3 linked regions of the Homo sapiens genome follow. The protein of the gene in region 1 purifies or fractionates together with the protein of each later gene. This does not show direct contact. Each region holds a gene or a part of one and is shown on either strand. Other genes may lie near its edges. The genes, in order: OGDHL, RP2 and CPNE8.

What was found.
Region 2: the proteins of OGDHL (region 1) and RP2 purify together in Homo sapiens (affinity purification with mass spectrometry; one large-scale study listed by BioGRID and IntAct). This does not show direct contact.
Region 3: the proteins of OGDHL (region 1) and CPNE8 purify together in Homo sapiens (affinity purification with mass spectrometry; one large-scale study listed by BioGRID and IntAct). This does not show direct contact.

What each region holds. Positions count from the first base shown.
Region 1 is NC_000010.11:49,745,278-49,748,926, forward strand, and holds part of OGDHL (2-oxoglutarate dehydrogenase-like, mitochondrial), read right to left. Parts: intron 1,932-3,649; coding exon 1,752-1,931; intron 1,602-1,751; coding exon 1,473-1,601; intron 701-1,472; coding exon 521-700; intron 220-520; coding exon 67-219; intron 1-66.
Region 2 is NC_000023.11:46,854,043-46,857,691, forward strand, and holds part of RP2 (protein XRP2), read left to right. Parts: coding exon 1-99; intron 100-3,649. UniProt on the Homo sapiens protein: Acts as a GTPase-activating protein (GAP) involved in trafficking between the Golgi and the ciliary membrane.
Region 3 is NC_000012.12:38,902,735-38,906,821, forward strand, and holds the start of CPNE8 (copine-8), read right to left. Parts: upstream 2,858-4,087; 5' UTR 2,801-2,857; coding exon 2,703-2,800; intron 1-2,702. UniProt on the Homo sapiens protein: Probable calcium-dependent phospholipid-binding protein that may play a role in calcium-mediated intracellular processes.

The sequences.
Region 1 (3,649 bases):
TACAACCCCTCTCCAGGGTCCCCACCCAAAGTTTGTCTTGGGCGCCCCTGCAGCCTGCCTGCCCACCTCAAACTCCTGCAGGGTGACTGTGCCCTCGGCAATCAGCTTGTCTGCGTACTTCTTCAGCACAGGCACCTGTCTGTGGATCTGCTTGTACATGAGCGGCTGGGTGAACATGGGCTCGTCCATCTCATTGTGGCCACGCCGGCGGTAACAGACCTGCAGGAGCAGCCAGAGGGGCTCAGGCCCTTCCCTACGCTGTGTGGTCAATGTAGCTGCTGCAAAATTGGGGAATATCTGGGTAGGGCACACCCACTGGGAGCCCTTTGAGCTCCACTATCACCTATCACCGAATGAATGTCCCGTCCCAGGCCTTTGCACAGATTGCTCTTGGTGGCATAAATCTCTCATCCAAGAAGCACTCCCAGCCCTGAGTGCTGAAGATGCTGATGACATGGCTGGCTCAGCACAGCAGGGATGGGCCACCCACCCATGCCTTGGCCTCAGTCCCCAGACCCACCAGGTCCACGACAACATCTTTGTTGAAAGTGTTTCTCCATTCGGCTGCCACACTGCACACATATATCACAGCCTCTGGGTCATCGGCATTCACATGGAAGATAGGCGCATTGACCACCCGGGCCACGTCGGTCGGGTATGGTGAGGAGCGGGCCATTCGGGGGTCTGTGGTGAATCCAATCTGCAGAGGCAGGAGAAACCTGCTGCGCCTCTCAATTTACTTAGAGTGAGATAGAAGGTGCCAGCCTTGGAGACTGAGCAGGGGGATGCTCAAGGTCCACTGAGGTGCCCAGGAGGAATGTGGGACACAACAGGGTGATGGTGAGCAGCCCCACAATTAGACACGGCAACAGCTCCCACGGGGACGGCAGCAGCACCAGCCGGGTGGAGCCTGCTCTTTTTCGCCAGTCACTTTGACACACTGGTAGTGAGGAACATAGGCCTGGAAAATCCAGTCCTAACAACGGCTAACTGCAACCTGGGGCAAGGTGCTTACATACCCACAGCCTGTTTCCTCATCTATAAAAAGGGGTCACTTAAATTCCCACCTCACAGGATGTTCAAGGACGATGACGTGACTTAATGCAAACAAGGCAGTGAACACAGGGCTTTCTAGACTCCATATGAGCTGTTAGAAGCTCAGCTGCCTTAGAGAAAGGGCACCAAGGTCCCTGTGTCTAAGATTGCCCATGTGGGGCTGCACACGGCCAGCCTCCATGAGGCACTCGCTACACAGGTGCTCCTTTGGTCCTTCCAGCCCTACTTATCCCTCCCTATTGTGTCTTCCAATTTCACAGACCAGGACACCAAGGCTGGAAAGAGCAGGGTCCTGCCTGGTAAGCAGCACAGCAGTGGGCTCAGAGCCAGGAGCATCTCACTTTCCCCGCAAGCTACTGCCTGGATTTCCAGGGATGCTGACGCTGTGAGGCCCAGCGTGGAGCCTACATGCTCACCTGGTTGTTGACGACGACGTGCACGGTACCATTGGTCGTGTAGGAGGGCAGGTCGCTCAGGTGGAAGGTCTCATATACCACGCCCTGGCCAGCAAAGGCGGCGTCCCCATGAACCAGGATGGACATGACCTGCAGGGCAGGTGTGAGCCAGGAGGGGCTGCGTGCCCCAGCCCATGTAGCCCAGCCGGCACCTGTACTGTGGAGACCCAGGGTCCAGCCCAGCCCTCTGGGCCCACCCTGAAGGGCCCAGGTCCTCTGGGTTCCCCCAGGTGAGCTCACCTTCTTGCCCTGGGCATCTCCACGGTAGAACTGCTCTGCCTTTGTCTTCCCCTGCACCACAGGGTCCACTGCCTCCAGGTGGGAGGGGTTGGCAACCAGCGACAGAGTGATGTTCCGGTTGGTGACGCGGTTGATCCTCTCATGGTACATGCCCAGGTGGTACTTGACATCCCCGGAGCCCTGAAGGTGGAGATGGGAACATGATGGATCCTCCCCTCCCACATCAGACAGGCAGATACACAGGCAGGCACTGCAGCCCACAGTCAGGCTGGCACATTCCCCCGATCCCACTGCCTCAGAGGGCCAAGCTGTCTCTGACCCCTCTCTCCTCATCACACTGCCCCTCCTCACTGGCCTGAGGGAGGAAGGCAGGGACCCCAGGCCTTGGCTCAGAGCCTCTCTGTACACTGACCATGGAGCAGGAGAGCACAAGAGTGGGGAAGGCCATCCAGCGGTGGGGAAGGCAGGGAGAGAAGGGCAGTGCCTAGGCATCAGCGCAGAGACCCTCGGCCAGGCCACCAGCAAACACTGAAGCTGAATCCCCTGACTCCTCACACCAATGGTAGCAATGAGGAACACACAACATTTTATGACCCTGAAGCAAGGAAGACTTACAGCATTCTACACAATATCCTAACACCAGAAAACACAAAAGACACCTAAATTCTAGCAAATTTGCCATGGGGGAGCAAACCCACGCCCAGCGATAGGGGAAACAAATCAAGCTGAGAAAAATATTCATAAACAAATGCAGGCAAAGGGCAAATTCCCTCAATGTACAAAACGCTTTTACAAATCAGGAAGATAAAGCCCAAAAACTCCATAGGAAAATGAGCAAAAGCCACAAGCAGGAATTTACAGAAAAATATGAATGGCTCAAAAGCATGTGAAAAGATAAGCAACTGAATTCATAACAAAGAAATGCATTACAACAAAATCCTCTTTTGAACCTATTATATCGGCAAAGATGAAAGGATTCGAGAGCGTGTAGGAGGAAGTGGGGTGGGGGCTCTGGCACCATCACACACTGTGGATGGGCTCGCTGACATCTGCCAGCTCCTGGGAGGGTCGTTCAGTCCCACCCCCGTAGCTCCAGCCGCTGCACTGCTCGGACACCATCTAACAGATAAACTCGCTCACACATGTGCAAGGACCCTCATGAGAACAACCCAATGTCCAGCACAAGGGATGCTTTAGCTGTAAGAAGCCTGGGGTAGCCCATGTGTGCAGGCAGGAAACAATGACAACTTGTTAAGTGAAAACAGCAAGGTGCCACCCGGTGTCACGGCTATGCCCATGGCCTCTTAGAAATAAGGTTGCACTGGAAAAAGAGGTTTGTTTGTATCAGCATGAAATGTTTCTAGAAGTACACACCTAAACACAACAGAAGCACACAAACAAAATTGGCCACAAGAATGGAGTCTCACTGAGGAACATATTCTCATTGTATAAGCTTTGTTCTGTTTTGTTGTTTTCACAATGATCAAATTTCTTTTTCAGTTGAAAAAAAATAGTAATTTCATTTTAAACATCCTTTGGCCAAGTTTTCCACTATACACACAGGTCATCTTTGACTCATTGCAACCATTCTCGGGCATGCGCTTTTATCCCTGTTTTATGGAAGAGCAAAGTGAGGCTTAGAAGGCTGAAGGTGCTAGAACAAAAGGAACAGGATGTCAGAAAGACCTGGGATAGGAGCCAGTAGGTATGGGTCCACACACACACACACACACACACACACACACACACACACACACGGCAGCAGGCTGGAGACAGCAGGAGAGATAGTCCTGAGGGCAAAGGGACACAGAGGAGGGAGTGACAGGCTCACTGCCCAGGGGACCCAGAGAGCCACCGAAAGGGAAGATGGGCAGGACTTTGAAAGAGGCTAGGCAGTG
Region 2 (3,649 bases), on another chromosome or scaffold:
TCCCGGGGTCAGAGACAGAAGAGCAGCGATGAATCATGCTTAGTGGTATTATTTGCTGGTGATTACACTATTGCAAATGCCAGAAAACTAATTGATGAGGTAAGGAGAAAGAGAAGAGAAATAGTCATACACCTAGATTTAAAAATGTACCACTCTGGAGTACTTCCATTCTTTTCAAATTGGCTATTGGAAATACAGGCAACCCTCAAGTTATAGTCCTTTGCCACCACCCCCTCTCCCAACAGACTCATCTGTAAGTAGATTGCTTGGGCCTCAAAATACTTTCTCAAAGAAACTTTTAAAAAATATAATTCAATTCAGTAAGCATTAAGCATTTGTTTGTAAGTAGATTGCTTGGGCCTCAAAATACTTTCCCAAAGAAACTTTAAAAAAATATAATTCAAATCAGTAAGCATTAAGCACCTATTATGTGCTAGTTACTGTTATCATATTTCACTGATGATAGGATGCCTATTTGTTTTCCATGATTTTGCTTATCTGGAATGCATCTTATAATTGATAGCAACTCAGAAATGATGAACTATAGTGTATGCTGGAGATGAAGATACATAGACAAAATTCTCTGCCCTTAAAGAGTTTCCATTATACTAGATGATTTCCAGAGAAGCTCACAAAAGTAGTACTGCTTAGTAAAGCATGACATTTTATAATTATTTAGTGGGGAAATTTCTTTAGAGTTCTAATTGGTTAGGGGGTAAGAAAATGCAATTTTTTTTTTTTGTGACGGGGTCTTGCTCTGTCACCCAGCCGGAGTGCAGTGGTGCGATCTCGGCTCACCGCAACTTCTGCCTCCTGGGTTCAAGCAATTCTCCTGCCTCAGCCTCCCAAGTAGCTGGAACTATAGGTGGGCGCCACCACACCCAGCTAATTTTTTTTGTATTGTTAGTAGAGACGGGGTTTCACCACGTTGGCCAGGATGGTCTCGATCTTTTGACCTCATGATCCACCTGCCTAAGCCTCCCAAAGTGCTGGGATTACAGGCATGAGCCACTGCACCCAGCCAAAAGTACATTTAGGAATACAACTTTTGGACCCTGTTGTGACTGTGAGAGCAACCTCCACATTACGTTCCTTATTTTCCTTTATTGCCATAGAAGGGAGCTTGATGCAGAAGAGTGAGATGGAAGCTAGGTTGGCAAAGCTCATAGGCTCATGAACAGTGGGTCTTGGTGAGCTCATGAATAGAGAAGGCTTTTTGGGGTAGCAGCTTCTGCTTGAAAAATAATTGGAGATACAGAGGTTAGGGGCTCCAGAAGCAGCAGTTCCTTAGTTGGTGGGTGCTCCAGTGGGAAGGCAGCAGTAGGATGTATTGATTATCCATTAATCAGGTTCCTTCAGGAGGAATCTGTTTGAATTTAAAAACCAAACTTAAAGACATAGAGAAGTGAATGGAAAACTCATCAAGTCTCTTTTTATTTTTTTGAGACGGAGTCTCACTTTGTCTCCCAGGCTGGAGTGCAGTGGCGCGATCTCAGCTCACTGCAACCTCTGCCTCCCGGGTTTAAGCGATTCTCCTGCCTCAGCCTCCCGAGTAGCTGGGATTACAGATGCCTGCCACCATGCCCGCTAATTTTTGTATTTTTAGTAGAGACAGGGTTTTGCCATGTTGGTTAGGCTGGTCTCGAACTCCTGACCTCAAGCAGTCCACCCGCCTCGGCCTCCCAAAGTGCTGGGATTATAGGCGAGAGCCACCACGCTCGGCCGGAAAACTCATCAAGTCTCTTTTTGAATGGATTTTTTTTTTTTAAGTTGGAACATATCAAAAGGAATGATTTTAGGAAAATACTAAAAATGAATACCTCTCAATAGCTATATATTCCACAATGTAGAAAACCCATGTAGAAATGTCTGAAATCCACAAAGTATATCTGAGGTATAGTTTTTAAACCAACAGAAGCCAAAGTTTAATTTTAAGACTTTTATATTTTCTCTTTTGCTTATGCCTATGTGATAAAAACATTCCATGAATCTGGTAAGATACAGAAAAATGTGCTTCTGGCTTTTGAGCTATCTGATCACATGTTAATCCAACATCTGAGAGGTAAATGCTTTCATTATGCAGTATGGTGATTTAAAAAAAAACTACAAACAGTTTTCAAAATATGTAATTATTTAGGTTAAACTCCTTTTTCATAGGTAATGAGGAGTGGACATAAAGAATATTTAGCATGTTTAAAGAAAAAGCCATCAAAACAGTGTTTCTTCATGAATCACCAAATGTTCTTAACCTTTTAACCTTTGGTATCTGGTATGTGAAATGGCAGTGTTGTGTGCCCTTGAAAAGAATATGACCAGGAAGAATGATATTCTTTAGATATCCTCTGGAATACAATATAAACAATCCCACAGCGATAATAATAACTAACACTTACATAGTGTTTACTATATGCCAGGCACTATTGTAAGGAATTTAAATGAATTAACTCAATACTCAAAACAACTCTATGAAATAGGTGCTATTATTCCCCATTTTACAGATATGAAAAATAGACCATAAAGAGGGTAAGTACCTTGCAAAAGGTCATTCAGCTGGAAAAAGCAGAGCCATGATTCCAATCCAGGCAGTCTGGCTGTGTAGGCCACACCTTAACCCTTAAACATGATGCTGTTATGCTCCCTCAGTGGTAAAGGAAAGTTGCTGAATGCCTGGTGGAGCAGGAATGTGACTGAAAGCATGTGGACTCTAGGGCCTTCCAGTCTAGGGACTATTTGGCTATAGTTATCCTATCTTATTCTGAAAGTACAGAATTAAGGAATGAAGAGAACAAACAAAAATAAAAAATAAAATACCAAGTACATGTGAAGAGGGTATCAAAACATGCTGAAAGACAAAAGACTTATATATTATATTGAGAGATTACATTTTTTAAAAAATGAGATGAGTTCGCAGGGAAATATGTATAGAAGCTAGTGAATCTTGAGATGAAAAAAATAAAACTTGAGTCTTTCTCATGTCATAACACAAATGTCTTAGGACAGCTTAGACTGAAACTATGATTGCTAACTCTATATTTGTTAAACCCCAGGAGGATTACAGAATTTTGTTTCACATTGTTTTAATGCATTAAATAATGATTTTTTTTTTTTCGCAATAGGAAGTATACAATTTGAGAGAGGTTAGGAAGTCCAAAAAGGCTGGGTAAAGCAAAAAGACATTCCATAGGGAGCCAAGAGAAGTTACTAGACTTTGGTTTTCTCACCTAAAAATCAGATTCCAGCCGGGCGCAGTGGCTCACGCCTGTAATCCCAGCACTTTGGGAGGCCGAGGCGGGTGGATCACGAGGTCAGGAGTTCAAGACCAGCCTGGCCAAGATGGTGAAACCCCGTCTGTACTAAAAATACAAAAATTAGCCAGGCGTGGTGGTGGGTGCTTGTAATCCCAGCTACTCGGGAGGCTGTGGCAGGGAATTGCCTGAACCCACGAGGCGGAGGTTGCAGTGAGCTGAGATCCCACCACTGCACTCCAGCCTGGGCGAGAGGGCAAGACTCCGTCTCAAAAACAAACAAACAATAAAAATTGTTTTTCTTTCCTCGACTTCTCTTACCTACATCACAGATATGTACAGGATAAAATAGAGTAAAATAGTTTGAGAGTACTTCATCATCTGAAATTGAAGTTGGGTAGTTA
Region 3 (4,087 bases), on another chromosome or scaffold:
CAAAAGAGAAGGACTTTTACAGAATTCCATACCTGAATCATATATAACACATTTATTCAACAAATGTTATTTCCAGTATTATAATAATAGCTAACATTTTTGAAAACATGTTTTTGTTTCATGCATTGTGTAAGCGCTTTCACACATCACCTTGATAACACTCTATATAAGGTAAATACCATAACTATTCTTATTTTTGGAGATGAGAATGCTTAGACAGACTGAATAAGAACTTACTCCAAGGTAGCAAGAACAAGTCACAAAGCCAGAATTTGTACTTAGGTCTCTGATGCCAAAGCCCAAACTAAACCACCTCCTATGGTTACAAGATCCAACAATACTCAAATATTTTTATCTTTGAATTTTAATGTATTAAAAATAAATTTAACCCACCTTTTCAGGAACTATTCCCAAACCTATTCCAAAGGCACTAACTTGGGTATTTAATTATGTTTCTCTTTGCCCAAAAGATGCTTTTTACCTCAAACTTATCGTAAATAGTAAGCTGAGTCAGAAGCAACTCAAACAATAGACTAAGCACTAGTGCCCCTGGCAGAGATGCTTGACACTAAGTATTCAGGTTCTCTTTCAGGATTTTTTTTTCCTGTTAGAAATCTTAAAAATTAAAAACAAAATGTCAAAGCAATGTTATGAAAAAAAGCTGGAACAAGGGATTTGCAGGTTCTGAGGCAGCAAACTGAAACAAATTGCCTTAAGCCAATTGACTTCAGTATGCCCAGCACACTCACAGAAAACATGCATCAAAAAAGGGGCTGCATTAAACATGGGCCCTACTGGCAGAATGACCAGTTTAGGTATAATTTCCCTTAAAAAGCTCATGGAAAAATTCAGACTTGATTGACAATATTCTTTTATATTCATTCCAAGTATAGGCCACATGCCATTCAGACTTTGCAGACTGTTGAGCAGAGGATAAGAACTCTAGTAATGCTGTTATTGTAGGACTTCCGGCTATCCATTATCTGTATATACCAGTAACTTCCCTCTAACATCGAAAGCAAGCTTCAGAGAAAAGAAAAAGGCCTAGGAATCCTCTAAAGAGTTTTCCAAACAGCTTCACCTGTTCCATTGACAGAAAAATCTCAGGCAGCACTTAAAGCAGTGACAGCAATGAGGCAAGAGCTTAATGATAGCTATCATTATCAGCATGATTATTTCCATAGTCCCAGATCAGTCTTAAGAGGCGGCAAACAATCAGGTGATATAGTTTCAGGGCTAGATAAAGGCTGTCCCCTACCCTCAAATAATACTTCTACTACGGTTGCTGGTGCTCGAATTTTCACCCCCAGAAAAGAATTCCTTTGGCTTTAGGCTCAGTTTGTGAAAATGCAAAGTCAAGATTGATGGAATTTTAAACTTATTTACATCAAGATCACCCAAATTTGTTAGATATCTTCAAGGCAAGTTTGCTAAGGAAAGGAAAGGGAGGATGTGAGGGCATAAAAACAATCTTAGGGCAAAAATGGATAAATGAGGAGCCAGTTTTCCAGTGAGACAGACCCAATTATGCAAACAAGGGAGTGGGCTCCAGGGTCAATATTAATTCGCAAATTAGTGGCCAGTACCAATTTAGCACCATCGCTCATCTCCTTCTCAAAATCATCTATGATATAGCGGTGATGCTGCTTTATTTACAGGGCAACTAACCGAAAGGTCAGGACAACGAGTTTGCAATTTACAGTCTCTGGACAGGGTTGAAAGTCAGTTTTTTTTTGTTTTTTTTTTTTTTTTGAGATGGAGTCTTGCGCTGTCGCCCAGGCTGGAGTGCAATGGCAAGATCTCAGCTCATTGCAACATCCACATCCCGGGTTCAAGCGATTCTCCTGTCTCAGTCTCCCGAGTAGCTGGGACTACAGGCGCGTGCCACCACGTCCGGCTAATTTTTGCATTTTTAGTAGAGACGGAGTTTCACCATATTGGCCAGGCTGGTCTCGAACTCCTGACCTCGTGATCCACCCGCCTTGGCCTCCCAAAGTGCTGGGAATACAGGCGTATAAACTGTACTGAGCCACTGCGCCCGGCCGAGAGTCAGTTTTTACAAGCACTCAGATGTGGGCCCGAAAACAAATCAAAACAAAAGTCGTGACTTCCCAGATCTTAGGTAAGGCATAGATTCGTCTGCAAGGAGGGCCGAAATCTCTACCTATCAGGCAAAAGGCAAAAAGCCCGGAAGGGTCGGGGAGAAGCAAGCTGGAAGGCTCCAGGAAGTGGGTGGGGAGGAAGCTGCCGGGGTTGGAGCCAACCCTAGCAACAGCAGGTTTGCACACGCCTAGCAGAGGAAGTCCCGGGCCTAAGCGTGCAGCGGTCACAAGAGCTTTTGGCAGTGCTGTCCCCTTCGATTCCGGTCATCACCCAACCATCCAGCCCGGGTTTGGGGCGGAAAACCGGCTTGTAAAGTGGGCGGCGGCCGGTGTTCCCACAGCTGAGTCACAGCCCAGCCAACTTTTACAGCGTTTCCCAGAAAGAAAATACAAAGTCTCAGTCCCGGAGCCCACCGCTTCTAATTCCCGCTCCCCTGTGTCACCTGACCCGGGGTAACTCCAGCCCCACTACTGAGATATTTCCCACTCATGGCGCAACTTCTTGCCTGCGCAAAGCCTCGTGGTACCCCGAGCGCTCTCCAAGTGCTACCAACCCCACAGATGAGAGGGCAGGAGAGAGGGGAAGGGCTGCGTCCTCACCTGCAGGACACGGACACCTCCACCCGCGTGGCCGGGATGGCAGCGCTCAGCTGGTTCAAGTCCCCGATGCCCGCAGTGCTGTTGTAGCGGCTGTCCATATTGGGAGGAGGCGCCTTGGACTTGTCCGGCGCCCACAACCACAGCTCGGGCGGACTGAGGGCTAGCTCCCGTCAGGCGGGGATGGGGGTTGAGGGTGGAGGCAGAAGAAGGAGGCGGAGGCAGCGCGCGGGATGGGGGAGGGAAGGGAGGAGGCGGACCTCCGCGCAGAGCCACGAGGGAACCGCTAGCCAGTCCTGGGTGAAACTGACGCTGCCAGGCAAGTGGCGCGCGGGGATCCCGGTTTCCCAGCCCCCTTCCGGCAGGCAGCAGCCCGGGCGGGGGACACACTCCGTGATCCCCTCCTGGCTGGAGGGGTCAGGCTTGGTGGACCCAGCAAGCAGCCTGATGGAGAAGGTGGCACCAGACGCAGACCCCTACCGTCCAGGACCGCAAGCCCTCGCCGGCTCTGCGTGCTTTTAGGTTTTGTCTCCACCTCTGCACACCCACACTCGCCTCCTGGGCCGCGACAGCTTCCTTCTGTCAATCAGGTGTGGACGGGAAGGTCTCGAAGTTTCCTCGCCTGAGTTGAAAGCTGGAGGTGGGGGCACCTCTGCCCGTTCCTAACTGCCCCGTTATAAGGTCCCCCTCCCCACAATTGGTTCTCACCTCGCCCTCGGAGCTCTTGGGAGATCCCTCCGTCCCTCCTACTGTGCCCTCGGGCAGATGAGTCTGGTCCCAGCTTCTGGACTGCCCACTGTCGGCCACTTGAGAGTTGGGGACGGTGGGGCATTGTGACGCTCTCCAACCTTGGAACACGGTGGCAAAGTGGCCGATCAATATATGGGACAAGTGGGGGCGGGGGGGCGGACTCTAAGGTGGAAAAAACAATACTACTTGGGATTTAAGGAAGCAATCTGGATTCTGTCTCCCCTTGGTTCTTCGGAGCTTAGAGGTCTAACGGCGACATTCCTCCTACAGTAAGGGCTCTTCTGGGTCCCTCGTTTCCAAAGGCATGAAAGTTCTGACCTGAAAATGGGGGCCGGGGAGGGTGATGTCACAACCATATAACGCAGCTCCTTCAGCCGACTCCCACCCGCAAGAACTGAGACCTGACGGATAAAAGCAGAGAGGAGTCAGAGTGAGCGCTGCGTTTGGGAAACTGCATTCCAGGGCAGCAAGACTGGTGCCAAGACGGAGTCGTGGCAAAAGCATCCGGAGGTAGACGAGGCGCCCCTCCACTGCAGGGACCTTTGTTCCCCGCGCCTTCCCTCCTGCCTCACCCGAGCGCCTGCGGGTCCCGGGAGCTCGCCACCAGGCGGCGACGGAGAACAGGATGCGGCGCAGCT